Linked DNA regions of Homo sapiens: all the other regions are linked to region 1. Evidence: fine-mapped expression QTL. A gene starts in region 1. Each other region holds a variant in brackets. All regions are shown on one strand. Distances are from middle to middle. Region 1 holds the start of ZNF106 (zinc finger protein 106). Region 2 overlaps CAPN3 (calpain 3). Region 3 overlaps STARD9 (StAR related lipid transfer domain containing 9).

The links.
Region 2: its variant is fine-mapped to the expression of ZNF106 in whole blood (TOPMed, PIP 0.91).
Region 3: its variant is fine-mapped to the expression of ZNF106 in whole blood (INTERVAL, PIP 0.95).

What each region holds. Positions count from the first base shown.
Region 1 is chr15:42,486,447-42,496,763 of GRCh38, forward strand. It overlaps ZNF106 (zinc finger protein 106), which reads right to left and starts at 4,695. Exons shown (of 22, transcript NM_001366845.3): 1 at 4,534-4,695. It overlaps SNAP23 (synaptosome associated protein 23), which reads left to right and starts at 9,188. Exons shown (of 8, transcript NM_003825.4): 1 at 9,188-9,267. RefSeq lists enhancers at 4,168-4,357, 4,408-4,457, 4,758-4,867, 8,861-9,404, 9,405-9,948.
Region 2 is chr15:42,408,570-42,416,976 of GRCh38, forward strand. CAPN3 (calpain 3) reads left to right here. Exons shown (of 24, transcript NM_000070.3): 17 at 734-811; 18 at 1,218-1,275; 19 at 1,362-1,426; 20 at 1,859-1,927; 21 at 2,019-2,097; 22 at 2,315-2,431; 23 at 2,718-2,776; 24 at 3,178-3,748. The coding sequence ends at 3,204. ZNF106 (zinc finger protein 106) reads right to left here. Exons shown (of 22, transcript NM_001366845.3): 22 at 4,254-8,407. Among named protein-coding and RNA genes, the nearest start is that of CAPN3, 53 kb to the left of the region's middle. The variant T/TA (reference allele first, on the strand shown) is at 5,280.
Region 3 is chr15:42,599,123-42,609,439 of GRCh38, forward strand. All of the region lies in intron 3 of STARD9 (StAR related lipid transfer domain containing 9), which reads left to right. Among named protein-coding and RNA genes, the nearest start is that of STARD9, 29 kb to the left of the region's middle. RefSeq lists enhancers at 1,676-2,292, 9,921-10,190. The variant T/C (reference allele first, on the strand shown) is at 6,054.

The DNA.
Region 1 (10,317 bases):
GACAGGGTCTCGCTTTGAAGCCCAGGCTGATCTTGAACTCCCAGTTTCAAGTGTCCTCCACCTTGGCCTCCCAAAGTGCTAGGATTACAGGTATGAGCCACCATGCCCAAGCTACTCTTTTTTACATCTACGTATAGCTCACATTTATTTCAATGTTTAGTATTAGAAGTGTTTGGGGTCTTCATTTAGAAGTTTGGTGATGTTCTTGTGACCAGAAATATGCCATAGGAACTTAACTCTTTTTTATATCAATTAACCTGTGGCAAAATTAGTTTTGTTATTATGCTGTTTTGCTTAGAGTCACAGTTTCCAAGATCCTATTGATGTTAAGTGAGGACTTGTTATATATATATATGTCAAGGCACCATATTGTACACAATAAATACATATATTTTATTGCCAATTAAAAAATTAATTTTTTTGGCCAGGCACAGTGGCTCACGCCTGTAATCCCAGCACTTTGGGAGGCTGAGGTGGGGGGATCACCAGGTCAGGCATTTGAGACCAGCCTGGCCAACATAGTGAAACCCCATCTCTACTAAAAATACAAAAAATTAGCCAGGCATGGTGGCAGGTGCCTGTAATCCCAGCTACTCGGGAGGCTGAGGCAGAAGAATCGCTTGAACCTGGGAGGCAGAGGTTGCAGTGAGCAGAGATCGTGCCATCGCACTCCAGCCTGGGCAACAAGAGTGAAACTCCATCTTTAAAAAAATAAAATAAAATAAAATAAAAAAGCTTATAGGGAAAATATGGCCTGGATGCAGTGGCAGCACACTTATAATCCTAGCACTTTGGGAGGCTGAGGCAACAGAATCACTTGAGGCCAGGAGTTCAACACCATTCTGGGTGACACAGTGAGACCTCCTCTTCACACACACAAAAAATTTATTAATTAGCTGGGCATGGTGGCACGCACCTGTAGTCCCAGCTACTAAGAAGGCTGAGGTGGGAAGAGGATTGCTGGGGCCAAGGAGTTTGAGGGTGTAGTGAGCCATGATCATGCCACTGTACTTCAGCCTAGGTGACTGAGCAAGACCCTGTCTCAAAAAAAAAAAAAAAAAAAAAAAAGCTTTTAGGAAAAACTATTACTACCCCCTCCTGTTTCCTAGCCACCGCCACTTCCAGTCAGCCACTCTTGTGAGTTTCTTATTTGTTTTCCAGAGATATTTTTCAATTTTTTTGCATGAAAATACAAAACATAAAATTTACCATCTTAACCATTTAAGTGTAGTTTAGTGGTATTAAATACATTCATAATGTTGTACAACCAACACTACCATCCGTCTCCATAACTACTTGCATCTTGCATAACTGAAACTTTATATCCATTAAACAATAACTCATTTCCCCCTCCCTCAACCCCTAGCAACCACCATTCTACTTTCTGTCTCTATGATTTTGACTATCCTCCACAGAGGATATTCTATGCATATATGGTTGTCCCTCGATATCCATGGGGGATTGGTTCCAGGATCCCCCTCAATACCAAAATCTGAGAATGTTAAAGACCCTTATATGAAATGGCACAGTATATGCATGTAACCTACACATACCTTCCGTATACTTTAAATCATCTCTAGATTACATGTAAGACCTAATACAATGCCTACACATAACTTCATTTATGTGGATGCAATGTAGTATGTACTCAGCACGTAGCAAATTCAAGTTTTGCTTTTCAGAAATTTGTGAATTTTTTTTCCCCAAATATTATCCATCCAAAGTTGGTAGAATCCATGGATGCAGAACCCATGGACGGATATGGAGGAACAATTGTATATGCAATACATAATATTTTTATAAAACCACAGTGGTTGCAAAATGCACACCCTCTTTTGCACCTTTTCTTTCTCACTATATGGGAGGTCACTCAATATTAGCACATATAGAGCTGGCTCATTCTTTCTAGCAAATTCATACATTTATTTAACCAATCCTTCACTGATGAAGACCTGGGAGCTTCTTGATAGTTTCTTTCAGATTAAAACATGCACAAACATGCACACACACACACACACTCGACTGTAGAGTTTCCACTAGTGATTTCACATGCTAGAGGTCCAAGTAGAGCATTCATATGTAACTTGTCTGCCCAGGTGCTCTTATTCATTGGGTACAGAAATTAATCCTAAACTCTCCACTAAGATACTCCCAATTACAAAACACACAATACATAGACTTCTCACTGAGCCATTCCTGGTCCCAGAACCAAGTCGTCTAGCATCTTCCATTCCTCTCAACTCTTGTAGAGCAGCCTTCAGACTACACGTGCACTAATCTAGATGTACAATAATCACTATTCATAGTCTTTCCTTTTTAAATATCTTCCTTTTAATCAAAACAATTGAGGCCGGGCACTGTGGCTCACACCTGTAATCCCAGCAATTTGGGAGGCTGAGGTGGGTGGATCACCTAAGGTCAGGAGTTCAAGACCAGCCCAGCCAACATGGTGAAACCCCGTCTCTATTAAAAATACAAAACGTTAGCCAGGCATGGTGGTGGGCACCTGTAATCCCAGCTACTCGGGAGGCTGAGGCAGGAGAATCACCTGAACCCAAGAAGCGGAGGTTGCAGTGAGCTGGGATTGCGCCACTGCACTCCAGCCTGGGCGACAAAGCAAGGCTCTCTCTAAAAAAAAAAAAAAACAACACACACACACACACACACACACAATAGGTTCTGAACTAGCCTGATCAGATTCGTTCACACCCTCTACCTCCTGCCAGGCCATTTTTTATTATTTTTTAATTTTTTTTTTTTGAGATGGAGTTTCGTTTTTGGAGTACAATGGCACAATCCTGGCTCACTGCAACCTCCGCCTCCCAGGTTCAAGCGATTCTCCTGCCTCAGCCTCCCAAGTAGCTGGAATTACAGGCATGTGCCATCATGCCCAGCTAATTTTGTATTTCTAGTAGAGACGGTGTTTCTCCATGTCGGTCAGCCTGGTCTCAAACTCCTGACCTCAGGTGATCCGCCCGCCTCGGCCTCCCAGAGTGCTGGGATTACAGGCGTGAGCCATCGCGCCTGGCCCCTTCCAGGCCATTTTAAAGTTCTCCTCGAAAACCATCTAGTATTTCTAATTAAAGGGCTCCTACTATCTTCTAGACTCAAGAGTTAACTCTAGGCATGGCGCGGTATTGGCAAATGTGTAGTAGATACTAAATAAATTCTAGTTGCATCTGAAAATTGTCTTTCATTATTTCATTCACGACCAAACTTGAGAACGGGGCTTAAAGCAAATTTTAAGATTTCCCATGCTATTTACAACAGTACTAAGCTCTTAATAAGCACTCAAAAGTTATCTGTGGGCCGGGCGTGGTGGCTCAAGCCTGTAATCCCAGCACTTTCAGAGGCCAAGGTGGGTGGATCACCTAAGGTCAGGAGTTGGAGACTAGCCTGGCCAACATGGTGAGACCTCGTCTCTACTAAAAATACAAAAATTAGCCGGGCGTGGTGGTGGTGCACGCCTGCAATCCCAGCTACTCGGGAGGCTGAGGCAGGAGAATCTCTTGAAACTGGAAGGCGGAGGTTGCAGTGAGCCAAGATCCCGCCACTGCACTCCAGCCTGGGCGAAAGAGCGAAACTCCGTCCTAAAAAAAATAATAATAATAAAAATAAATAAAAATACAAAAAATTAGCCAGGTATGGTGGTGGGTGCCTGTAATCCCAGCTACTGGGTAGGCTGAGGCAGGAGAATTGCTTGAATCCAGGAGGCGGAGGTTGCAGTGAGCTAAGATCGCGCCACTGCACCCCAGCCTGGCAACAAGAGCGAAACTTTGTCTCAAAAAAAAAAAAAGAAGTTATTTGTGCTTTGAATAAACTGGATATAAACCATTATGGTGGATACAGCACTTATTTGCTAGGTAAGAGAACTTCGCTTACCTAGGATGACAGTCTCAAGTTGCTAAAAGCCACGGATATCTCAAACTTCTCAATAAGATGCCTTAATCTTACTCTCAAAGATGATTACACAACAAATTGAAAGGGGAAGAGGATGTAAAGCATTTCCTCTCCACAATTATACACCGAGATTCGGACTAAATATTAAACGGACACAGTAAGCTGTTGTTACTATTTGTTATTAGTTGTTATTATCAAGACGCATCCCACAAGGAGAGAAACGAAAGGAGGAAAAAGAACGGAGGTTGTCAGTCGCGAGAGGTTGAAATGTGTCCCTGGCCTGAGACCTACGGGCTTTAAGGACCAGGGTCTTTGGACTCCCTGCCCAACTGGGGACGAAGGAGGTCAGTGGCTTCCCCTAAAGGTCAAGGCTTTGGAGCCACGTTTCCTTCTGGGGCTGGGAGCAGAGCTGGAACGCCCCCGCGAAAATCCGTACCCCGAAGCCAGCAGCACCGCCTGCCCATAAACCCGCGCCGGCTCTGGGAGAGTGGACCACCAGGTTGCCCCTGAGCCGCAGCCTGCAGGAGTAGAAACCCGGTGGTGTCTTGCAGCCCCACAACCTCCCTAAGGGGCAGACGACCAGGACCCTTGGGCTCCGATACGCTCAACGCAGGCCGGCCCGTCGATACTCACATTCACAGCCAACCCCTCTTACTCCATCAGGCCGCCGAGAGCCAGGCGAGGGAGCTCCCTGACGCCTCAGACGCCCCCTTCAGTTTTGGGTCCGGGAGCCTGCTCCGGACCCGCTCCCCGCCGGGCCCCGCCACAGCCGCCGCCAACGCGCAGGCGCACACCGAAGCCGTCACGCTCGCTTTTTTTTCCTTTGCCGTCCGCAGTTCTCAATAATCTAGCTTTATTTGAACACAAGAGAGTGAACAACGGACACACAGGAAGAGGTTTTTCTCAAAAAGAATGGAGGAAGAACAAAGGCAGGCCCGCTTGCGGGAGAGTCAGTACGCAGCGTTGGACGCTATGAACAGCCTCCCTGGTCCCTTTTTCATTCTCCTTGTTTCTCCTTGTTCTTTCCCGGCCTCCCTGTAGCTCCTACTCTCTTCCTTGGTGTCCCGCCATTTCCTTTAGTCAGTGGCAACTGTTCGGGCTACATTTTGAAAACACTCCTTCCTTGTAAAACTTTCTGAAGTTGAATGGAAGGTGCAAGAGCTTTAGAACAGCCAGACCTGAGTTTCAGATCTTGGACTAGCTACGAATAATTTGTGACTTTGGGTAAATTACAATTCTTCTTGGAACCTCAGGTTCTTGAGTTAAAATTAGGATAATGTTATCTCACAGGGTGTTGCTAGGATTAAATAACATAGGTCAAGTGTTTATCTATGAATGCTGCCTATCACAGAGCAGACATTCCATAATACTGACTTTATTCTTACTCATGCCTAAGGTATTTATAATATTTTTTAAGTAGAGACGGGGTTTCACCATGTTGCCCAGGCTGGTCTCAAACTCCTCGGCTCAAGTGATCTGCCTGCCTTGGCCTTCCAAAGTTCTGGGATTGCAGGTGTCAGCCACCGCGCCCAGCCTACATTTATTATTTATTTATTTAGTTAGTTAGTTAGTTAGTTATTTTGAGATGGAGTCTTGCTCTGTCGTTCAGGCTGTAGTGCAGAACCGCTCTCTTGGTTCACTGCAACCTCCACCTTCCGGGTTCAAGCGATAATCCTGCCTCAGCCTCCCAAGTAGCTGGAATTACAGACGTGCACTACCACGCCCAACTAATTTTTGTATTTTTAGTAGAGATGGGGTTTCGCCATATTGGCCAGGCAGGTCTCAAACTCCTGACTTCAAATGATCCGCCCACCTCGGCTTCCCTAAGTGCTGGTATTACAGGTGTGAGCCACCGCGCCCGGCCGCCTATATTTATTATTAAACTTAGCCCATACCCATTCCCTCAGAAACCTAATTTTAGTGACTAAGACTATCAGATAAATGAAATGACATTCAGGTTGATAATTATGTGGAGTGTCCCTCCTATATTATTGAGATTATAACATCTCTGTTTAACAAGACCTTCAACGTCTCAAATAAAAGTAAGCAGCGGTGGGGCACAGTGGCTCACGCCTGTAATCCCAGCACTTTGGGAGGACGAGGTGGGCAGATCATGAGGTCCAGAGATCGAGACCATCCTGGCCAACATGGTGAAACCCCTTCTCTACTAAAAACACAAAAATTAGCTGGGCGTGGTGGTGCGTGCCTGTAGTCCCAGCTACTCGGAAGGCTGAGGAAGGAGAATCGCTTGAACCCGGGAGTCGGAGGTTGCAGTGAGCCGAGACCTCGCCCCTGCACTCCAGCCTAGCGACAGAGCGAGACTGCGTCTCAAAAAAAAAAAAAAAAAAAAAAAGAGAGAGAAAAAAGAAAGGAAGCGGCTATATTAACCTCTTCTATGTAAATCCAGATTTGTTCTAGAGGTTTAGGAAACTTCCAATTCCGTGTTTGTGACATCACAAGTCCTTGAAACACTCAAGGGTTGTGGTACGCTGCTCATTCTATTCTCCTTCAAAGGCATGCAATGGAGGAACTATTTTACCCTATAAACTCTGGGCCATCATTCAGGGAAAAGCCTGTAGAAGACCACAGTCAGATATTGGTGAGTGCCAAGGTAACGCTAGATTATGGTTTCTCAACTTTGGGATTACTGACATTTTGGAACATATACTTTTTTGTCAGGGGTATCCTGTGCATTATAAGATGTTTAGCAGCAGACTGGGAGCAGTGGCTCACACATGTAATCCTATAACTTTGGGAGGTCAAGGGAGGCAGATCGCTTGAGTCCAGGAGTTTGAGACCAGCCTGGGTGACATGGTGAAACCGTGTCTCTACAAAAAATGCAGAAATTAGCCGGCAGTGGTGGTGCACACCTGTAGTCCCAGCTACTCAGGAGGCTGAGGTGGGAGGATTTGAGCTGCAAAGGTAGAGGTTGCAGTGAGCTGACATCACACCATTGCACTCCAGCCTGAGCAACAGAGCAAGACCTTCTCTCTCTCTCTCTCTCTCTCTATATATATATACATATATGTGTGTGCGTGTGTGTGTATGTATGTTTAGCAGCACTGTTGGACACGATGCTAGTAGTACCCACCCCCGTTTCCCTGTCATCACAATAAAGCATCTCCAGACATTGCCAAATATCCCCCGGAGGACAAAATCGTCCCTGGTTGAGAACCACGGAATTATATCAATGACCATCACAACCCTAAATGAACTAATGAACTCAACCATACATTTTCTCCACCTCTGCCCTCAACAAGTGACTGCTGCTTGAGAAATTTACACAGGAGGGCAGAAAATGGTGAGTTCATTTTTGCCCATATTAAAAAGGCCCTCAATATTGCTTACCAGTCCTACAACATTCTTCTGTCAACTTGTTGTATTACTTTCTACAATATTCCAAATCTTCTCAGCTTTCCTTTAAACTCCCAATACCACCTCCTTTTCTATCAGAAGATGACCCCATCTTCAACTTCACAGAGAAAACAAGTCAGCAAATGAGAACTTTAACTTCCTGTTACTAAACATACAGAAACATACTTCCTCTCATAATTGGGGAAATATCTCCTCTCTCTCTCTTTCTCCCTCCCTGCCCTCTTCCAAAACCATTATTCTTACCAGTGTTTCGAACTGCCTCTAAACTGCCTCTATTCTTACCCTTTCAAGATCTTTGCCTACTGACTATCCCTTCTCTTCCTTTATTCAACCATTTTTTTCTCAGTTGAATCTTCCCTACCATGCTCAAGTTTCTCCTGTCTTAATTCTAACAAAAATCAAAAAAACAAAAACAAAAAATCTTGATCCTTCATCATTCTCCCTCCTTCCTCCCTGTCAAGGCCAAACTTTCCAAAAGCATTCTACAACTTGTCCCCATCTCTACATCTCCCCCACCTCCAAACTACTAAGTTGTTTTTTTCAACCCCAGCATTCCAACAAACAGCTTTCACTGAGATAATCAGTGACCTCTGTGTTATGAAATTAAAAAAAACATTTCTCAGGCTTCATCTTCCTTGATCCCTTAGGAATAGACTACTTACTCCTTGAAGCACTTTTTTTTTTTTTTTTTGAGATGGAGTCTGGCACTGTCGCCAGTGATAGACATTATGATAGTAATGTAGCTGGGATTACAGACACCCGCCACCACACCCAGCTATTTTTTCTTTCTTTTTTTTTTTTTTTTGTAGGGGGGACGGAATTTCACTCTCGTTGCCCAGCCTGGAGTGCAATGGCATGATCTTGGCCCACTGCAACCTCCGCCTCCCAGGTTCAAGCGATTCTCCTGCCTCAGCCTCCCGACTAGCTGGGATTACAGGCGCCTGCCACCATGCCCGGCTAATTTTTTGTATTTTTAGTAGAGATGGGGTTTCTCTATGTTGGCCAGGCTGGTCTGGAACTCCTGACCTCGTGATCTGCCCGCTTCAGCCTCCCAAAGTGCTGGGATTGATTACAGGCGTGAGCCACTGTGCCTGGTGAAGCACTTTCTTTTCTTGATTTCCAGCAGTTTATTTTATTCTTAGAGGTGCATGGAGGGGTTCCTGCAGCAAATAGTTTACAATAATCCTCCATCTGCTTAAAACTCTTCAATAGCTTTCAGTGCCCCTAGTACAAAGTGGTCTAAAATTCCAAGGCCTTCCAAGATCTAGCGATTGTTGGCCTTCTAAAGCTTTCTTTCCTCTACACTCGGGGATGTACGATTAGCACTAAGCCTCTAACAAGGATGAACTACTAGAAATTTCCAGAAGGCGTTATGCTGTTCTCGACATAAGCTGTTCCCCAGAGCCTGGAAAACTCTAGCTCTTTCTCTGCCGGATTTCCGGGGGAACTCCTACTTATCCTTCATGACTCAAGTCACTTCCTCCGGGAACCCTTCCAGACACCCCTAAGAATAAAACGCTTTGTTCATTATCAGCCAAAGGCGCCTCAAATTTTCTATGTGCTATGCACTGTATTCTATCCACTATAATTTGTTTACATATCTATATCTTAGTCTAGACATATTGAAAGGCGATGAAGAGCAGGGAAAGCACTGTATTCGCTTTCTTTTCTTCAGCGTTCATCCAGCACAGTGCCTGGCATACGGTTTGCCCTCAGTAAATGTTTATTGCATGAACACCTCCCAGCTTCGGGCAGGACTGAAATCTATCCGGTTAACTAGTGAATTCCCAGACTCTCCGTCTGCGTGGCAGGGACATTTAAACCCCCAGCACCGTGATTGGCTCCAGCTGCAGGGGTGTGTCTGTGTCCGCGGCGAACGGGAAGTGAGCAGGCGCGCGGGCTCGGCGCGCGCAGGCGCGACTAGGGTGCAGCGCCAGGTCCGGTGTTGGGGTGTCCGAGTTGCCGCCGGAGAGGAGTGGCCTCGCCCGCTTGGTGAGTCTCCAGGAGTGGGACGGAGGGAGCTGGCCGGGATGAAGTCTGAGACTATGTCCTGAGAAGAAAGAGTGTATCGTATTGGTTGAAAAGTTGGTGGGGTCGGGCTTAAGCGGAGGAGGGGGCTCTCTGGCCCTTACTCGGCAGATGGGCCCGGAGAGAGGACGGGAGGTGCCGGGAGAACATCGAGGGACCAGTGGAGGAAGGGTAGCTGGATGGTAATTCTCTGGACCCTTCCTCGAAATTAAACAGAGATCACTTTCCGCCCCTCACCCTTACTGTGTTGCTGTAGTTGACATTAATAGACTGCCTGTATGGTGACCACAGTGATCAGATAGCTCTGAGATAATGGCTTGAGGAAGGACTCTGAGGTTCCTGGTATTGGATAGCCCTTGCTCTCTAGAAAGGTTCAGCCTTACCTCGCGGCATTACTGCACAAATTAGAGGATCAGGAAAAGAATGAATTTCACAATTCGGGATTGGAGTGGTGGGGGGAAAAAGTACTGTAAAGTGTAGTTTCATCTCGTCCTTTTTTTCTTCTTTAATCAGTCACCACAATGTTAGGAAAGGCAGTTGATGGTAGGAGGAAACGTAAAGACATAAAAGTGGGAGAGGAAAAAAAAGTCAAGAAGGGAGTATCATTTTGCCTTTTGCTATTTGTCATCTCCTGGAATGGGGTCTGTATTAGTGCGTTCTCACACTGCTATAAAGAAGTACCCAAGGCCGGGCTTGGTGGCTAACGCCTGTAATCCCAGCACTTTGGGAGGTCGAGGAGAGAGGATCATATGAGATCAGGAGTTCGAGACCAGCCTGGCCAACATGATGAAATCCCATCTCTACTAAAAATACAAAAATTAGCCAGGCGTGGTGGTATATGCTTGTAATCCCAGCTACTCCGGAGGCTGAGGCAGGAGAATCACTTGAACCTGGGAAACAGAGGTTGCAGTGAACCGAGATCGTGCCACTGAGCTTCAGCCTGGGAGACAGAGTCAGGCTCCAACTCAAAAAAAAACAAAAAGCAAAAGAAATACTCGAGACTGGGTAATTTAT
Region 2 (8,407 bases), 79 kb before region 1:
ATCCAGCCAGGATACAGAGAAGGGGAGGCAAAGGCTGAGACAGAACCAGCTTGAGAGCGGAGGCGCAACTCTTGTCTCCTGGTGGCCTTGAGCATTTCACAATAGGGGGATAAAGGATAGGAGCAGAAAAGTGGGGCTGACTTCAGAAATGGGGTCCTCTAGAGCTCACGGGAGGGTGTTAGATTGGAGTGGGAGCTTAGTGGAGGTGAGCCTTAGAGGCAAAAGTCTCCAGACCAATCCAGGGCCCCTCTTCTATCCGGGGGCCCCTCTTCTATCCAGGGCCCCTCTTCTGTCTGGGAGCCCCTCTTCTATCTGGGGCCTCATGCAGTGGGGCCTAGGGGAGGTTCTCTGAGGACTTGGCCTTGATGACAGGGTGGCTGGAGGAATCAGAACGGTCAGACCTTCTTTGACCTGCGGGCACCTTTAGTTGGAATGGTCAGGCCTGGGATGGTGGAGGGGGCTCTTGCAGGTGGGGACTGGGGTGGCGGGGAGGAGGCTGTATGGCCGCCATATCTCCTTTGGCTGGGGGCGTCAGGGCTGGAGAGGTGTGAAGAGTCCCTGAGGCCTCGATGCATCTCACTCCAGCTCACCAGGTCTGCATTTGCCCGTCCCCAGCTCCTGCTGCCACCTCCGGCCGTTTTAGGCACTTGGCTCCCTTGGCCCAGAGGAGCTTGCCTCACAGGCCTGTGCACCTCTGACCCCTGTGAACCAGTTTTCCTTTGTGCCTCCACAGCCACAGCCTGGCAGCTCTGATCAGGAAAGTGAGGAACAGCAACAATTCCGGAACATTTTCAAGCAGATAGCAGGAGATGTGAGTACCTCCAAGCCCAGGACGCCCACAGGTGCTTCCTTCTCTCCTGGATTAACTGCTCAGATTACCAATTATTTCATTATTGTTTGGTAGAGGTCACTTTGGACTTTGGTGGAGCCAGGGGATGTGTGCGTAGCACACAAATCCACAAGCCCTTGAGTTTTGGACTGCCACGTCTGCTGGGGGGCTCAGAGGCCTTTTTGCTCTGAGCTGCCCACGGTGGTCCTGATAGCTGAGGTGCAGTATCTGGCCCCCTGTCTTCCTCAGAAAAGCCCCAGCTTCCCATGACATAATAGCACCGACAGGGATTTTACAAACACAGCCAGGTGGAATTTGTTTTGCAAAGTGTCCGCGCCAGGAGCTGCTGTACTCCTGAACCATGACCCTCCTCTCCCTTCCTCCTCAGGACATGGAGATCTGTGCAGATGAGCTCAAGAAGGTCCTTAACACAGTCGTGAACAAACGTGAGTTGCTCAAACCAAATGGGGGTGGGGTGGGTGGGGAGTCCCGTTGTCTCAAAGCAGCTCCTCACTCTTCTCCATCCCCCCAGACAAGGACCTGAAGACACACGGGTTCACACTGGAGTCCTGCCGTAGCATGATTGCGCTCATGGATGTATCCTTCCTGCCGCCCCTTCCCGACCCTCTGTCATCAGCCCACGGGGGCCAAGGCAACATACAGGGTGCCCAGTCAGGCAAAGGGCCCTAATTTGTGCCCAGGGAAACTTAAGGAGACCCTGATTCAGAACATCTTGGATACTCGTCTGAAAGGGGTTGTTAGAGGCGGAAGGGGAGGATGTTGGGTTGTAACTGCCCTAACCCCTGTGCTTCTCTCAGGCCTGGGATCCTGCCCAAGCAAAAGTGGTCCTTAGGAGAGCGGCTCCTGGGTTACAGAGTAGGCGCAATCTCTGACTGGTGGTGGAGTGGAGGGGAGGGTTAAATAGTACAACAGGGCAGTGGGTAGGACAGCCCGGAGTCTCCTAGACCCTCCCTCCAAATCCAGGGGGATTTTGCTGTGTGCTGTGTAGCCCTGACCTCCCTCCTCCAGACAGATGGCTCTGGAAAGCTCAACCTGCAGGAGTTCCACCACCTCTGGAACAAGATTAAGGCCTGGCAGGTGGGAAGAGAAAATGAAGCGTGGGAGTCAAGAATGGGGTTGATTTGGAGATTCAGTGTGTGACCTCCATCCTCAAATTTTCTATTGCCAGAAAATTTTCAAACACTATGACACAGACCAGTCCGGCACCATCAACAGCTACGAGATGCGAAATGCAGTCAACGACGCAGGTGCTGAGAAGGAAGGGGTGGCAGGGATGTGGACCCGAGACGGTGGGAGCAGGAATGGGAGGGGACTAGGCTACTAGGGCCCCACTAGAGAAAGGAGAGGGAAAGGGCTTCTCACTTTCCCTTCCCAGGTCACAGAGTGGCCGAGAGGCAGGGAAAATAGAAGGCAGGCCCAAGGCCTCCAGCTCCACGTCCACCTCTAACATGGTCCCCTCCACAGGATTCCACCTCAACAACCAGCTCTATGACATCATTACCATGCGGTACGCAGACAAACACATGAACATCGACTTTGACAGTTTCATCTGCTGCTTCGTTAGGCTGGAGGGCATGTTCAGTAAGTGGGAGAGGGGGGCTGCCCTCTGCTCTCTTGCAGGGGCAGTTGTGGCAACAGGCATCTCACCTGATAATCTCCAGTCTGCTCCATCCAGGCTGAACAAGGGCCAATGACCTCTTTAGGCCCAGAATGGGATGGCAAAGGGAGGGTTACTGGTGATTCTCTGCCTGCACATCTTTGTGCTGATGAGGGACAGCACTGGGCACATGGTCCTCTGAGGGGAAGTTACAGTAGTAGAGGCGGAGTGCGCCTGTAACTGGCCTCTGGCCTGTGCATTCTTTCACAGGAGCTTTTCATGCATTTGACAAGGATGGAGATGGTATCATCAAGCTCAACGTTCTGGAGGTAAAGCATAGGCACAGCACATTCCCCCTACACATTAAAACTCAAGGTGGAGGGGTCAACGGGGCGGACTGGACCCAGGGTGTGCTCCTCATTTCCACACAGTGGTGGAGGGAAGGGATAGGAACAGAACATGGAGGGAGGCTCAGCAGGCTCCCAGGACACATGCACTTGAGGCCCAAAAGGACCTCTGCTCCCCCAGTCACTTGATGCGGGAAAACATGCACCTTCTTAGGGAAGATCTAGGAGAAAGGAAACAGTAAGCCACTGCTTCTTGGAAAATCTTCTGGGGGTCTGACCTGCTGGGACTGTTCCCTTTCCTCTTGCCCCGTAAGATTCCTAGGGCGGGGGGGGGGGGGGTCACTCTTTTCTGATCTACATTCTGATCTTGGGACTTCTTTCAGTGGCTGCAGCTCACCATGTATGCCTGAACCAGGCTGGCCTCATCCAAAGCCATGCAGGATCACTCAGGATTTCAGTTTCACCCTCTATTTCCAAAGCCATTTACCTCAAAGGACCCAGCAGCTACACCCCTACAGGCTTCCAGGCACCTCATCAGTCATGCTCCTCCTCCATTTTACCCCCTACCCATCCTTGATCGGTCATGCCTAGCCTGACCCTTTAGTAAAGCAATGAGGTAGGAAGAACAAACCCTTGTCCCTTTGCCATGTGGAGGAAAGTGCCTGCCTCTGGTCCGAGCCGCCTCGGTTCTGAAGCGAGTGCTCCTGCTTACCTTGCTCTAGGCTGTCTGCAGAAGCACCTGCCGGTGGCACTCAGCACCTCCTTGTGCTAGAGCCCTCCATCACCTTCACGCTGTCCCACCATGGGCCAGGAACCAAACCAGCACTGGGTTCTACTGCTGTGGGGTAAACTAACTCAGTGGAATAGGGCTGGTTACTTTGGGCTGTCCAACTCATAAGTTTGGCTGCATTTTGAAAAAAGCTGATCTAAATAAAGGCATGTGTATGGCTGGTCCCCTTGTGTTTTGTTGTCTCACATTTAGATATCAGCCATGCATGACTGAATGGCTTCCAATCATATACTCACCTATCACCTACAAGAGAACAATGAAAAACACACACAAAAACAAAATCTTGAATTTTGTAATCATGCCTATTGCTATTTCTTGAGCATAAGAATGGCTCAGATACTTTCCAAGACATAAAAGGAAGGCAGAGGAATAGTTGTTGCTGTAAAAGACATCAAGAATAAATGGGTCATGTACAACGGGAGGGGCCGGTTACCTGAATAATGGAGTGGAGATTGAGCTATCCTAGCTCCTCTGCTCACTAACTGACCTGTCGCATGACCGTGGACAAAACCCTGAACGCAGCTGTTTGTTTGCTAAACTTCTCTGGACCATGGCCTGCGGCATATCTATAGGCATCCTGTGTTTTCCACCCAGTTTCCTTCTTCCTCGCTAAGCCAACGTGGAAAGGGCTGGCCGTGAATATGCAGACAAGGTAACGAAAGTAAACCGTCAATTAGTAAAAGTACTTTATTTTCCTCTTGTATTTGCTTTATATCTTGCTTTACAAAGTTACGAAGTTCACAGCTTTATACCAAAATGTAAGAAGGCTATTTGCTTATAAACATTTTTGCAGTCAGGTGTCATCTGATTTCATTCTTCTAATCCATATTCAATATTAAAAAAATCAGAAACCAAGGGTGCTGGAGCAGCTCTAGGGCATATATTTCTCTTAAATAGGAGAAAGATTTTCAACAGCTTTTCCTCCTTGACCCCCTCCTTTCCCAATTTATTTGGGTCACTACCTTGAATTTAGAGTGAATCTGGGAAATGTAGTCACCAGGTAACCCAGCAGGGCCATATACTTGGGCTTGGAGGTGAGGTTAGAGGTTACTGTCTAATACAGTAGGTCTGGTTTCTATGAGGAGCTCATATCCACTTGCATAAGGAAACCTAGTCTATCCCAAATCACCTCCACCACAACTTCTATTCCTGTCTATTAGACCACTTCTCTTAAACCCGAGGAACCTGATGATTTGGGGGCAGGGATAAAACCATTATTTTATAAATGTGGCAGGTATGGCCTTCGTAATTCTAGAAGCTCCCGTTTAGGTAACAGAAACAAAATTTAGATGTAAGCATAAACTGCAGTTATTTGAGCAAACCAGAGCATATGTGCTGTTCAAATCCCACTTCACAATATACTTCAATCTCACCTCCAATGAATTCTCTTCCATAAAATAAACCATTCCACTAAGTATATACCTACTCCCACCAAATCATCCACATGCCTCATCACTAAAGTTGTCCCTTGTATAATCTACCAGCAAAAAGACAAAATAAAACCTGTGTTAAGCAAATAATCACTTAAACAGTAATAATATTGCCTCTAAATTAAAGGTAAGTCAGGAGCTGAACACTCAACTGTTAACTCTTCTGGGGAAGAAGAAAATTTTTCCCACAAAAGCAGGAGTGCAGTAGTAAGTAATGACTTTCTCTCAGATTCAAGTAACATCAGGTCAAGATAACCTTTGCTGT[T/TA]AGAGTTTTGTTTGCATGGTGTGGAACTGCTTTATAAACTGAGTAGAGACGTATGCCAAAATTATTTTTAACCTAATTAAAAACTTTCACAGAAAACTTGAAGTGACTGATACTTTATCACAACGAACTGCCATTTAAACACTAGCATAGGTACACAAAAAGATTTATACTATGGTTTTCTTGGCTTTAAGCCATTAGAATTAGACAAAAGCAACCGAGAGTAACATTCTAAAAGTGGCTTCAACTACTTTAAAGACATGAGTCAGTTTTTGTCAGGTCATTTAATGGTTTCTTTCCTTCACAAAGCCACTAAATGCCAGAGTCAACACAGATCCCTGAGCCATAGCTCTTCTCTGAGGGGAAACAGGGTTATAATCAGTCACAACATTGTGGAAGACATTAAAAAAAGAAGGCAAAGTTCTGTATAATTTTCAAGACTCTTGTAAGTAGTAACACACAGCCATAAGCAGCCAAAATGCTTATGGTCCCTTTATTTCTTAATAGAGGGCTAGAACCGTTCATTTGGGGTAACACACTAATCTGGTGTTAAAAGAATTTCATGTGTTCTTGAAACAAAGGCATACTGCCACTGCTTCAAAAAAAGCCTTTGTGAAATGAAGAAAAATATGACAAACACAGGTTCCCACACGTACACATACATACAAAGGAACCTGCACACTTGCACACACACAGGCAGGTATAGGCACACAGTTCCACCAAAGCGAAGTCCAAATCAGAGTTCTTACCGATTCTACCACTCTGTAATACTCTCAGAAGTTCCCACAACTGCCCAACACCTCACCTACCCGTTTCCTGCTGCACAAAGTCTCCTTCACTCTCATCTTTTCGATACATCGTCAGGCAGGGCAGAAGGGCACTACGCCGCAGAGCATTCGAGGCTCTCAGCACACTGCCAGCCAGCGTGAAAATGCGGCTTCACTACAGCCCAGAGAAAAGGGCCAGGTTTAGTCATCGATCCAGATGCATTTTCCCGGGAAATGACCATTCCCAAACCCACAGAACAGTTTGGCTTCTCTGGATATCCTTATAGGAAATAGGGGTGAGAGGTGGGAAAAGCTTCTCAATCTCATACAGAAACAGCACAAATATTTAATACACCTTTTGCAACAAGATCTTCTCTGTTCTCCATTAAGCATCATGTAAATCTCACTAGTGTGGTTAACAAAATGGCTTTCCCCAAGGACAGAAGTCAAGAGCTTGTGGGGCCATATATTATCTAGTACTAGGCCATTCATTATCTCCTAGATTAACTCTTTTTTTTTTTTTTTTGAGGTGGAGTTTCACTCTTGTCGCCCAGGCTGGAGTGCAGTAGTATGATCTTGGCTCACTGCAACTTCTACCTCCAGGGTTCAAGTGATTCTCCTGTCTCAGCCTCCTGAGTAGCTGAGACTACAGGCACATACCACCACACCCAGCTAATTTTTGTATTTTTAATAGAGACGGGGTTTCACTATGTTGGCCAGGCTGGTCTCAAATGCCTGACCTTGAGTGATCCACCCGCCTCGGCCTCCCAAAGAGCTGGGATTACAGGTGTGAGCCACCAGGCCCGGCCTCCTAGATTAATTCTTGACATTTTTTGGATCAAGTAAGAACCACTGGAGCCTTTCCTGGAAAAAAGAACACATACTCAGTCTCACACACAATTTCTGGGGGCTCACAGACCCTCTTGAAGCCTATCCATAAACCCCCTGGTGAAGTCCCCCTGCCCGATAGCCTGAGGGAAGACATGTGAGTGGATATATGTGCACTAACAGGGGCGAAGACAGACCTGGATGGTCTGCAATCCCAGAGAGCATGAGGCACCATGTCCCAAAGCTTGGTATGTGGCCCTGGGCTCCTCCCCCAATTTTATCTCTCTGAAGAAGCTGAGTTTTTTTTTTTTTTTTTGAGACGGAGTCTCACTCTGTCACCAGGCTGGAGTGCAGTGGCACGATCTCAGCTTACTGCAATCTCTGCCTCCCGGGTTCAAGCGATTCTCCTGCCTCAGCCTCCTGAGCAGCTGGGATTACAGGCGCCCACCACGCCCGGCTTTTTGTATTTTTAGTAGAGACGGGGTTTTGCCATGTTGGCCAGGCTGGTCTGCAACTCCTAGCCTCAGGTGATCTGCCTGCCTCAGCCTCCCAAAGTGCTGGGATTACAGGCGTGAGCCACCACGCCCGGCCACGTTCTGAGTTTTGAGGATCCAGAAACAAAAGGCTGGAAAGCGACACTTCTACAGGTTTACTGATGAGTCCGGAGAAAATCCAAAAACAAAGCCCCACTGAGGGTTTGTGAATTTGGCTGTTCTCAGTGGCCAGGCAGAGTCTCTGCTCCACTCTTCTTTCCCAGCTAGCAGGGAAGTGAAGGCAAAGAACTGTCTCAGAAACAAGTCTCTAGGAAGTCTGCTTGAGGTCCTGAAAACTGTATTCAGATGCTTTATTCTAACCCCCTCTCCCCCACCATCTTAGTTGCTGCAGGGGGGTGGAAAACACCCCGTGAGCCCAGAGGAATATTCGATGGCTGCCATCGGTCTAGGCACGGCCATACAGTGGGAGAGATGGAGGCTGGCAACTGAACAAACCAAAAGGGTTCAAACCAACATTAGGCTTGCAGGGTCAGACACTAGAAAGGAAGATAAAGGTACACCTCCAGTTCAACAGCCTGACAGGATCTGTAACAGGTAGTGCCCAGGTTCAACAGCAGATGTAAAGGTAGACGTTAGGTCTACGCACTGCCTCACACTGAGCTTTCTATCCACATTTACAGAGATTTACTAGAAGTGGTGTCTGTAAGGACTTGTCACTATGTGATTTGCTTCCTGAATTCCTAAAAGATAGTCAGCAGAGCAGCCACTGTTTGTCAAAAATCTACTGTGTCCTTTAGCACTTAAAGCCAGCTCTATCTATAAAGCAAGAAAACAGTGACACACACTGCACATAATTGTTAAGAAAGAAAACTATTTGCTTCCAGTTTAAATACCCAGCTATTACAAATGGAGAAATTAAAACTGATCCTCAAAGTCTGGCACTTAAACAAACTTGTACTTAAAAGCCTGACTATAGGTTTAAACCATCATAAGAACATAAATTAAAAATTGCAAACTGAAATCAATAAAATATACATATGAT
Region 3 (10,317 bases), 110 kb after region 1:
CATGTTGGCCAGGCTGGCCTCAAACTCCTGACCTCAGGTGCTCCACCTGCCTTGGCTTCCCAAAGTGCTGGGATTATGTGAGCCACCATGCCCGGCGTATACTTGGGGATCTCTTTTAAAACTCTGTTTTGTTTCCTCAACTGTATTTTTGTGCCTGAACCATACTGTTTCAGAAAGTTTCAAATATACATGAAAACACCATCTTGTTTCACTACTTTTTAATATTGGTGAGGGCTCGTTCTTTCTCAGACTGTCCTAGTTATTTTGGTTATTGCCCTTCCCCAAAATGCCATATCTTTCTCTGCTTTTGCTTATATTGGCTCCTCTTCCTAGTGTATATTAATACATCTCACCTCTCCAGTTTCTATCGTACAAAATACTGCTTGTTCTTTAAGGTTCAGTTAAAATGATGCTTCTTCCTTGAAGTCACCATCTCTTGGATTCTCATAGTATCTTGTTACTCCCTTGTGATACATTCTGTTTACTAACTAAAGTTAATGCTCTTTGGATACAAGGCTTATCTATTTTATTAGTCTGAGTGATCCTTGAAGGCAGACTAGGTCTCATCTATCTTTGAACATGCCACGTTTCCTAGCACAGTGACCATTCATTTATTCATTCATTCAGTAAGCATTTAGGAAGCAACACATGGGGTTTAGTGCTGCGAGGAATACAGAGTAGTAGATGTGATTCCTGCCCTCAAAAAGCTTACAGTCTTATTGGGATTACCAGGCTTTAGGTATGTAAAGATCATCAAGAATAACAAGCATTTAAGTGTTATAATCGTACTTAGAGTAAGTACTTAAGGAATCCAGAAGAATAACATATCCAAAGTTTGTTTTGAATGAGTTCAGGGAGGGTCATTTTGGTTGGAGGGGACAGCTTAAAGACTCTAAGGCAGGAATGTACACCATGTGTTTGAGGGGATCAGGTGGTGCTAGTCTGGGTGAAACTAAGAGGATATAGTCACAGTGCCCATCTTTCCAAGTGTTTCAGGAGGCCAGACTCCTATATTTCACCTCTAAGCTGGTCCAGACTCCTAGAGGAGATGAAGACCAAACGGTTTCTCTGGTACAATGACAAAGTGGTTTCAGAAGCGTACTGGATACTTAGTTGAGTCCAGCCTATATAGGACATGTCATCACTCCCATTCCAGGAAGCAAGAAAGGGAGGATGGGTGCTTTCCCTTTAGATAATTTGGAGGAGCTATGAGGACTTTTAACCTGAGGAGAGGAAGCAGTGTATACTGGATACAAGGTTATAGGTTACAGAAAAAGCATTCTTCACTCAACAAACATTTATCTATTATATGCCAGGGATGGGCTAGGTGCTGGGTAAACAAATGGGGGGTGCTTGTGCATGTGTGTGTGAGAGAGAGAGGGTTTTGCTTCGTTTCTTTCTTTCTTTTTTTTTTTTTTTTGAGACCAAGTTTCGCTCTTGTTGCCCAGGCTGGAGTGCAACGGCACGATCTTGGCTCACTGCAACCTCTGCCTCCCGGGTTCAAGCGGTTCTCCTGCCTCAGCCTCCCGAGTAGCTGGGATTATAGGCATGCACCACCATGCCCAGCTAATTTTGTATTTTTAGTAAAGATGGGGTCTCTCCATGTTGATCAGGCTGGTCTCGAACTCCTGACCTCAGGTGATCTGCCCATCTTGGCCTCCCAAAGTGTTGGGATTACAGACATGAGCCACAGTGCCAGCCTGCTTCGTTTATCTCACTTGATATATCTGTTTTTCTTTCTTTTTTTTTTTTTTTTTAGTATTTATTGATCATTCTTGGGTGTTTCTCGGAGAGGGGGATTTGGCAGGGTCATAGGACAATAGTGGAGGGAAGGTCAGCAGATAAACATGTGAACAGAGGTCTCTGGTTTTACTAGGCAGAGAGCCCTGCCGCCTTCAGCAGTGTTTGTGTCCCTGGGTACTTGAGATTAGGGAGTGGTGATGACTCTTAACGAGTATGCTGCCTTCAAGCATCTGTTTAACAAAGCACATCTTGCACTGCCCTTAATCCATTTAACCCTTAGTGGACACAGCACATGTTTCAGAGAGCACGGGTTGGGGGTAAGGTTATAGATTAACAGCATCCCAAGGCAGAAGAATTTTTCTTAGTACAGAACAAAATGGAGTCTCCTATGTCTACTTCTTTCTACGCAGACACAGTAACAGTCTGATCTCTCTCTCTTTTCCCCACATTTCCCCCTTTTCTATTCGACAAAACCGCCATCGTCATCATGGCCCATTCTCAGTGAGCTATTGGGTACACCTCCCGACGGGGTGGCGGCCGGGCAGAGGGGCTCCTCACTTCCCAGACGGGGCGGCCGGGCAGAGGCGCCCCCCAACCTCCCAGACGGGGCGGCGGCCGGGCGGGGGCTGCCCCCCACCTCCCGGATGGGGCGGCTGGCCGGGCGGGGGCTGCCCCCCACCTCCCGGACGGGGCGGCTGGCTGGGCGGGGGCTGCCCCCCCACCTCCCGGACGGGGCGGCTGGCCGGGTGGGGGCTGCCCCCCACTTCCCGGATATATCTGTTTTTCTACAGGAGGGTTTTCTGAGCAAAACTCTCCATTGTCGGTCTGTTAATATATTCTTTATTTCACCTATCAGTGCAAAGATGGACAGTGTGTTTGATTTATATTCCACAAACCCTATAGCATTAAGTCTAGCGTCAGCAGATGATCTGCAAAAAATTTACATTTTGCTCTATGGACTCTAGAGCCTATTTTACTTTATTTTATTTATTTATTTATTTTGAGGCAGTCTTGCTCTGTCACCTGGGCTGGAGTGCAGTGGTGCGATCTCAGTTCACTGCAACCTCTGCCTCCGGGTTCAGGTGATTCTCCTGCCTCAGCCTTCTGAGTAGCTGGGACTACAGGTGCGTGTCACCACGCCCGGCTCGTTTTTATATTTTTAGTAGAGACAGTGTTTCACCATGTTGGCCAGGCTTAGGTCTTGAACTCCTAACGTCAAGTGATCCACCCACCTCAGCCTCCCAAAGTGATTACAGGCATTAGCTGCTGCACCCAGCCTAGAGCAAATTTTAATTTAGTGTTTGTTTCCTACACCAAAGGCAGGCAGAGTCTTTGTCAGACATGGCAATAGTATGCTCTGGCTTCTAGAACATGGCTGGGTGACTTTATCTCTTAAAGCCAAAGCCAGAAATTGATAATTTACTATGAAATATTTTGGGGCATTTCCAGTTGCAGGTTTTGATATACCTGGCTAAGGTATGGTATGTTCAAGGTAGAGGGGTCGTGACTGCAAGTTGTCCAGGTTCTTGGTGTTTTGAAGAAGGAATTGGACAAAATGCCCAGTAAAGCAAAGAAAGAATGAAACGAGAGAATGAAAGCAGGGATTTATTAAAAATGAAAGTACACTCCACAGTATGGGAGCAGGCTGAGCACTGACTCAAGGGATCAGATACAGAATCTCCTTGGGTGCAAATACCCTCTAGAAGTTTTCCCATTGGCCACTGCATGCTCACCTCATGTAAATGAAGTGGTAGCTTGCAATCTGTCTGATTGGTTGCAGAAGGCAGTCAACCAGAGCCTGAAGTGAAGTTGCAAAAGTCACACTGCTGTGCAAACAGAGGTTAGGGTGAAGTTACAAAGTCATACCTCTATGGTAAACGAAGAAGACTCGGCCAGCAATCAGCCTGATTGGTTGTAGACAGCAACCATTCAGAGCTGTGGAGTGAAGTTACAAAGTTGCAAATGAAGCCAAGACCCCCAACTCCTTCATCCCACCCCTTTTGTTACTTTTGTTACTTAGGCGTGGAAAGTCTAGGGTTTTCCTTTCAGTTTAGTTCTGGGAAGTTGGCGTGAGAGCCTTAGGTTCCCTGCCTCTAGACCCTATTCTCCTGCCTCATATCCAGTATGGATCCTTGCTGCTACTTGCTGCTCTTTCTGAACTGCATTTTTTGGGACTGGAGTTTGGCCTCATATATTCTTTTCCAGGATAAAGTTTGAGGTGGTTGTTACAATATGTTGGCTCCAATTATTCTGTGATTTACATATATTTACACAAGCCCACTTTCCAGTAAAAATAGACTTTTTATTTATTTATTTATTTATTTTCGAGACAGAGTCTTGCTCTGTTGCCTAGGCTGGAGTGCAGCCTGCCTCAGCCTCCTGAGTAGCTGGGACTACAGGCACGTGCTACCACACCTGACTAATTTTTGTATTTTTAGTAAATATTGGGTTTCCCCATGCAAGCCCAGCTGGACTCGAACTCCTGACCCTGTGATCCTCTCAGCCTCCCAAAGTGCTGGGATTACAGGCATGAGCCACCATGCCAGCCAAAAATAGACATTTTAGAATTGTGAGCAGGTGTGGAGGTGAAGAGGAAACAATTTGTGTCTTTGTTCTTGTAATCACCAGATTACAAGGTTCTTGCCTGCTGCCCCATAGAGCCAATTTACCGAGACAGTGGAATCACAATAAAGAGTTGAATAAACACAGAGCCAGCTAAGCAAAAGCCCAGAGTTTATTACTCAAATCAGTCTCCCCAAATATGTGGAGACGAGGGTTTTTAAAGGATAGTTTTGCAGGCAGGGGGCTAGGGAATGGGGAATATTGATTGGTTGGGTCTGGGATGAAATCATAGGGGGTCAAAGCTTGTCTTCTTGTGCTGAGTCAGTTATTGGGTGGGAGGGCCACAGGACCAGATGAGCCAGTTTTGTAAGGTCTGGGTGGCACCAGCTGGTCATCAGAATACAGGGTCTGAAAAATACTTCAATTCCTATCTTTGGTTCAAAGAACCAAAGGAAAAATACTTCAGTTCCTATCTATAGGAGCAATTGAGGAGGTTAAGAATCTTGTGATCCCTGACTGCATGACTCCTGCACCGTAATTTCTAGTCTTGTGGCTAATGTGTTAGTTTTACAAAGGTGGTCTGGTCCCCATGCAAGGAGGGGGTTTGTTTGGGGAAGGGGCTGTTACCTGTTTCAAAGTTAAACTATAAATTCCTTCCTTAGTTAGCTTGACCTGTGCCCAGGAGTGAACAAGGTAGCCTGGAGGTTAGAAGTAAGATGGAGTTGCTTAGGTCAGATTTCTTTCACTGCCATAACTTCCTATGTCAGATTTTTCACTGTCATGATTTTTGCAAAGGCAGTTTCAGTCTGTCTGCTTCTACTTGTTTGATCCACGCTTCTCTTACCTGTCTCTTAAATCAACATCAAATTTGATTTTTTTATTTGTGGAAGCTCATAAGGTCATATAATATGTGATTATTCTACCTCGTTCATTCATTCAGCATGCATTTACATAAAAATATGCCAAGAATTGTGCTAGGCACTGGAAATAACCAATAAGAACCAACATTGTATTTGTCCTTTAAAAACTAATAGTTCTTGACAGAGACAGATACTAAAGAGAGAATTACTCCACAGTGTGGTAAATGTTATCATATTTTAACCAAGGATTTGAAAAAACGTGAAGAGGGAGGAAGATTGTTTTTGTCAGGGGAGGAAATCTAGTTCATAGTATGATTGCTTTATTCAGGATCAAATTGATTTTTTTTTTTTTTTTTTTTTTTTTTTTTTGAGACAGGGTCTCTCTCTGTCCCCCAGGCTGGAGTGGAATGCAGTGGTGTGATCTTAGTTCACTGCAGCCTTGATCTCCTGGGCTCAAGCAATCCTCCCAACTTAGCCTCCTGAGTAACTAAGACTACAAACATGTGCCACCACACCTGGCTAATTTTTTATTTTTTGTAGAAACAAGGTCTCACTATGTTGCTCAGGCTGGTCTCTAACTCCTGGGCTCAAGTGATCCATCCACCTCAGCCTCCCAAAGTGCTGGGATTACAGGTGTGAGCCATCGCGCCTGACCTGGATCGAATGGAATTTAAATCCATATATTCTGTTCCAAAGATGAGAAGGACATTTCTTCTTAAATCTTGAGGGTGCTGTTTCATGTACATAAATTTAACCTCACAGCTTGGTGAGTTTCCAAAAAGATCAAAGACTTCTCAAAGCATCATATGAATTATTCACTAGTCCTAACATGGAGCTCTCTCCTGAGTTTTATTCTGGATGCCATTTAATCTTATAATAAAATAGATA[T/C]ATGAATCATTTGGTTGAGGCTGCTACTTAGCATATTAACTTGATGTATGGTCATTATAGAGGGGCTGGATTCAGATGTTTGAACTACAGCGAAAACCTTTCTGCAGGAAAGGCAGAGTTGACAGTTTCTTATTTTTCAAGTATGAGGCAAAGGAACATGAGCTATTTATAGACTCACTTCCGCAACAGACTGAACACAATAGAAGCCTGAAATCAAATGGTGACCAGATGTGCCCAGGCATCCCCCAAGTCTAGGTGTCAAAATTATAAAAGACAGAGCCCCTGGGGAATTGGTTTCAGGGCAGAAGCAGTGCACTTAAGCCCATAAGATCACCATCTGTATACAAATAGCCCCTTAAACAGCTGGTCCTCAGGAGTGGAAGAGGTAAACAACAGTGTGTTCAAACTCACTTTTCTTGCTTCTCTTCCTAGAAGTGGGGGATAATCCCTTTGTCAATAACTTTATTTCCCAATTCTTGTCTCTCTAGTTAGGCAGTTAGAAAAGATACAGCTGCGTTCTGGGGATATGCGCTGAATTGGTGTCCGAGGAAGATTAATGCAGCTTCCATGCAGTTGGTGGAGATCATGGTTCTGCTGAGATGAGAAGACATCTGACAGGGATGGAAACCCATAATTACTTTTCTTTCTTTACTGTTCCTCCCCTGTTAAACTAATTTCATCTTGTTTGTGGTGGTGTTGTGGCGATGTTTAAAGCACAAACATGTCGTGGTCTCTGGCTGGTATTGCTTTTCCTTTTCTCCCGCATCAGAGATTTTAAGAAAATACAAACAACTTCCTCTTTCCATAAACATCTGGAAACATTCCCATGGAGTTTAGATTCAATTTCAGGGTTTGGAAAAGTTGTACTTAATTTTGGAAAATGTTCAAACCAGCTTGCTTCAATGGGAAGGGAGAAAAGAAAATAGCACTTTTTGAGAACCTACAGTCTTCCAGGTACTGTATTGAGTACTTATCACCTTCACAACAACCCTGTAAAGTGGGTTAGTACTCTGTTTTACAGATGTGCTTACTGAGGTTCAGAGATGAAGCCCAGTTTTAGTCCATTCTACTGTCTCACCACATCCTGCTACCTTTGCACTCCTTCTCTGTGCTAACCTCTAATACTTGGAGTATGACATGAATTAGCTGACAATTGGAAAATATTGGACTGTTAAATCTTGCATTTACTATAGGAAAAGACCAAGAGTCATGAATATAGAACATGTGTTTTCAAGCCTCTCTATTGGCCCCTCTCTCTGAGATGTGCAGAACACCACCTATTTTTAGTTTTGTTTTTTGAAACAGGGTCGGACTCTGTTGCCCAGGCTGGAGTGCAGTGGTGTGATCTCAGGTCACTGCAACCTTCACCTCCTGGGCTCAAGCCACCTTCCCACCTCAGCCTCCCAAGTACCTGGGAACACAGGTGCGCACCACCACACCCAGCTAATTTTTGTATTTTTTTTTTTTTTTAAGATGGAGTTTTTCCAAGTTGCCTAGGCTGGTCTCAAACTCCTGGGCTCAGGTGGTCCTCCCACCTCAGCCTCCCAAAGTGCTGGGATTACAGGTGTAAGCCACTGCGCCCAGCCTATTTTTAGTTTTGTATCCAGAGTAAGTGCTTGTATACATGTACAGTCAGGGTGCTTTCTTCTGAATCCCCTGAGTAGACCTAACTGACCCAGCTACTCTCTAAGGCACAAAAAATAGCTCACCCATTATAGCAAATGGATGCTTCATTTCACTCATTCTGACCCAGAGGCTGGGTTTTGAAGTGTACTTCATTGATTGATTGATTGACAAGGTCTCACTCTGTCTCCCAGGCTGGAGTGCAGTGGCGTGATCATAGCTCACTGCAGCCTCTATCTCCCGGGCTCAAGTGATCCTACCACCTTAGCTTCCTGAGTAGCTGGGACTACAGGCATGTGCCACGTCCTCCACATGGAGGAGTCTAAAGTCTGTGCACAACCCTGTAACCATTGTGCTCTTTTTCCTTCCCAGCACAACCCTGCATTTTTCTGGTGCTTTTTTTTTTTTTTTTTTTTTTTTTTAAGATGGAGTCTCTCTCTGTCACCCAGGCTGGAGTACAGTGGTGCGATCTCAGTTCACTACAACCTTCGCCTCCTGGGTTCAAGCAATTCTCCTGCCTCATTCTCCTGAGTAGCTGGGACTACAGGCATGCACCACCATGCGCGGCTAATTTTTATATTTTTAGTAGAGATGGGGTTTCACCATGTTGGCCAGGCTGGTCTCAAACTCCTGACCTCAAGTGATCTGCCCACCTCACCCTCCCAAAGTGCTGGGATGACAGGTGTGAGCCACTGTGCCCACCCTCCTGATGCCTCTTTTTCTGAATAGATTCTTTCTCATCTGTGGAGTACCCTAGGAATTCCAGTTTCATATTAGAGAGGGAAAGAATAAATACAGGACCTCCAGACTGAATCTAGGAGAATCTTAATATATTATACACACACACACTTATACACACACACACACACACACACACACACACACACAAATATATATTTGAATATAATTAAATCCTATATTGTTTTACAGGTTTTTCCTAAATCCCACCTGCTTCCAAGTATTTATTTTCTAGCAAGTATTTATTTACCCCCCTCTGATCAGTATCTTCCACATAGAAGTACTTACACAGTAGGGAGGATGAATCTCTTAGGCATTTGTCAGCTCCGTTAGGATTTTTAGAGGTTTACTATGTTTTATTGAAAACCAGCCTCAAGTTCCTGATTGACTGTCCAGGTTTGTGTCAGTATATTTCTTAGTTGTCACTAACAAGTAATTGTGGAGCTGAGTGCTCACCCCCACCCCCCGCAGGTCTCTTTTCCATTATCTTATTTTTTGTTTTTTTGCATACACTTTGGTAAGTTGCTGAGACAACCTTGAGAAACACCTTTGTCCAGGGATATGGGCTAAGGCTGGAGTCAGGCTTTGTTTGCTTGGTTGAAGTGACTTGCTATGAAGGGCTGAGGTGTAAGAAGTGCCACAGACGAGTGTGGTTAGAGATCTTGTGACTCTGGCATGCAGCACTGCCCTTCTGCAAGCTAGTCTTTAGGATTGGAGGAGGGTAGTGTGGTTTGTGGGTAGTGTGGCTTGAGGGAAGACAGGACCCTGCCAGCCGGATGCGTGAGGTGGATGCTGTTCAGATGAACACATAACTAATCTCTTCAACCAGACCCTGGATTGCCAAGAATGATATGGGCTTCACCTGGGCTGGCTGAACCCAACAATGAAACCGGAATTGTCTCAGAGGCTCAGCTCCCTTGCTTCTCTTACATTAAGATTGGTCTCTAGAGACCCATTTAGACTAAACAGTATTAAAAACAGGAAATTTGCTCCTAGCAGCCTGATTGCAGGAAAAGTTTTTTCCACATAGGCAGGAATGAATGTTAAGAACAAAAACTCCATCCTCCAGGCTTGTTTTCTTATATAAAATTATTAGCAACCAAAAAAACTTGAAGCATCTTTGACATATTGGACTACCTCTCAGAGTGCTGACAGGACCCAATACCAAAAGGTGATAAAGAGCTCTTGTGAACACAATCAAAAATATGAAAACGGTGCTTTGTGGAAGATACTGACCTGGTAATGTTTATCTTGCCTGAAGATCAAATATGTGGAAATTAATGCAGAAAGGATTGGGGGAAACCTAAAGAACAGCTATAATTTAATTTTAGTCAACACTCATTTATTGTGACTATTCTGGATTCAGTCCATAGATTATGTATTCATGTATTCAGTCAGTGTTAACCGAGCATGCACTGTGCGTTGTTGCTGGGTGCCATGTCCCAGCTTCAGCCTTAGATGTGTGAGATCCTCTTTCCTCTTTGGTACCTCAGGGGCTTGCTAGGGTTTTCTTATGACAGTTCCGGGCATCCCTAGATCTAGAGACCAAACTCCTGGGACTGCTGCTCTTTTGAATGATTTTGCTGCTGAGGATAGTGGGGGGCGGGAAGGGGAATATATTGGAAGAAGAGAAAGGGGACAAAGAGAAAACTAAAAGCTAGAAAGGAAATGCTTTTTTTCTTCTGTGATGTCATTCTGCCCAAATAAGTCGAGTGTTGAAGAAGGCTTCTAAGCCCTCAGAACGTGACCCAAGTCCTCTCTCTAACCCTGGCTTCTATTCATAACCCTAATGTGGCTCAGTCAGTGTGTCATGAACACACTTCTGCAGAAGAGACGGTATGGTCAAAAGATTCTTTAGTAGATCTGTGTCATTTCTTTGCTTGTGAGGAAACAACTATTTTTA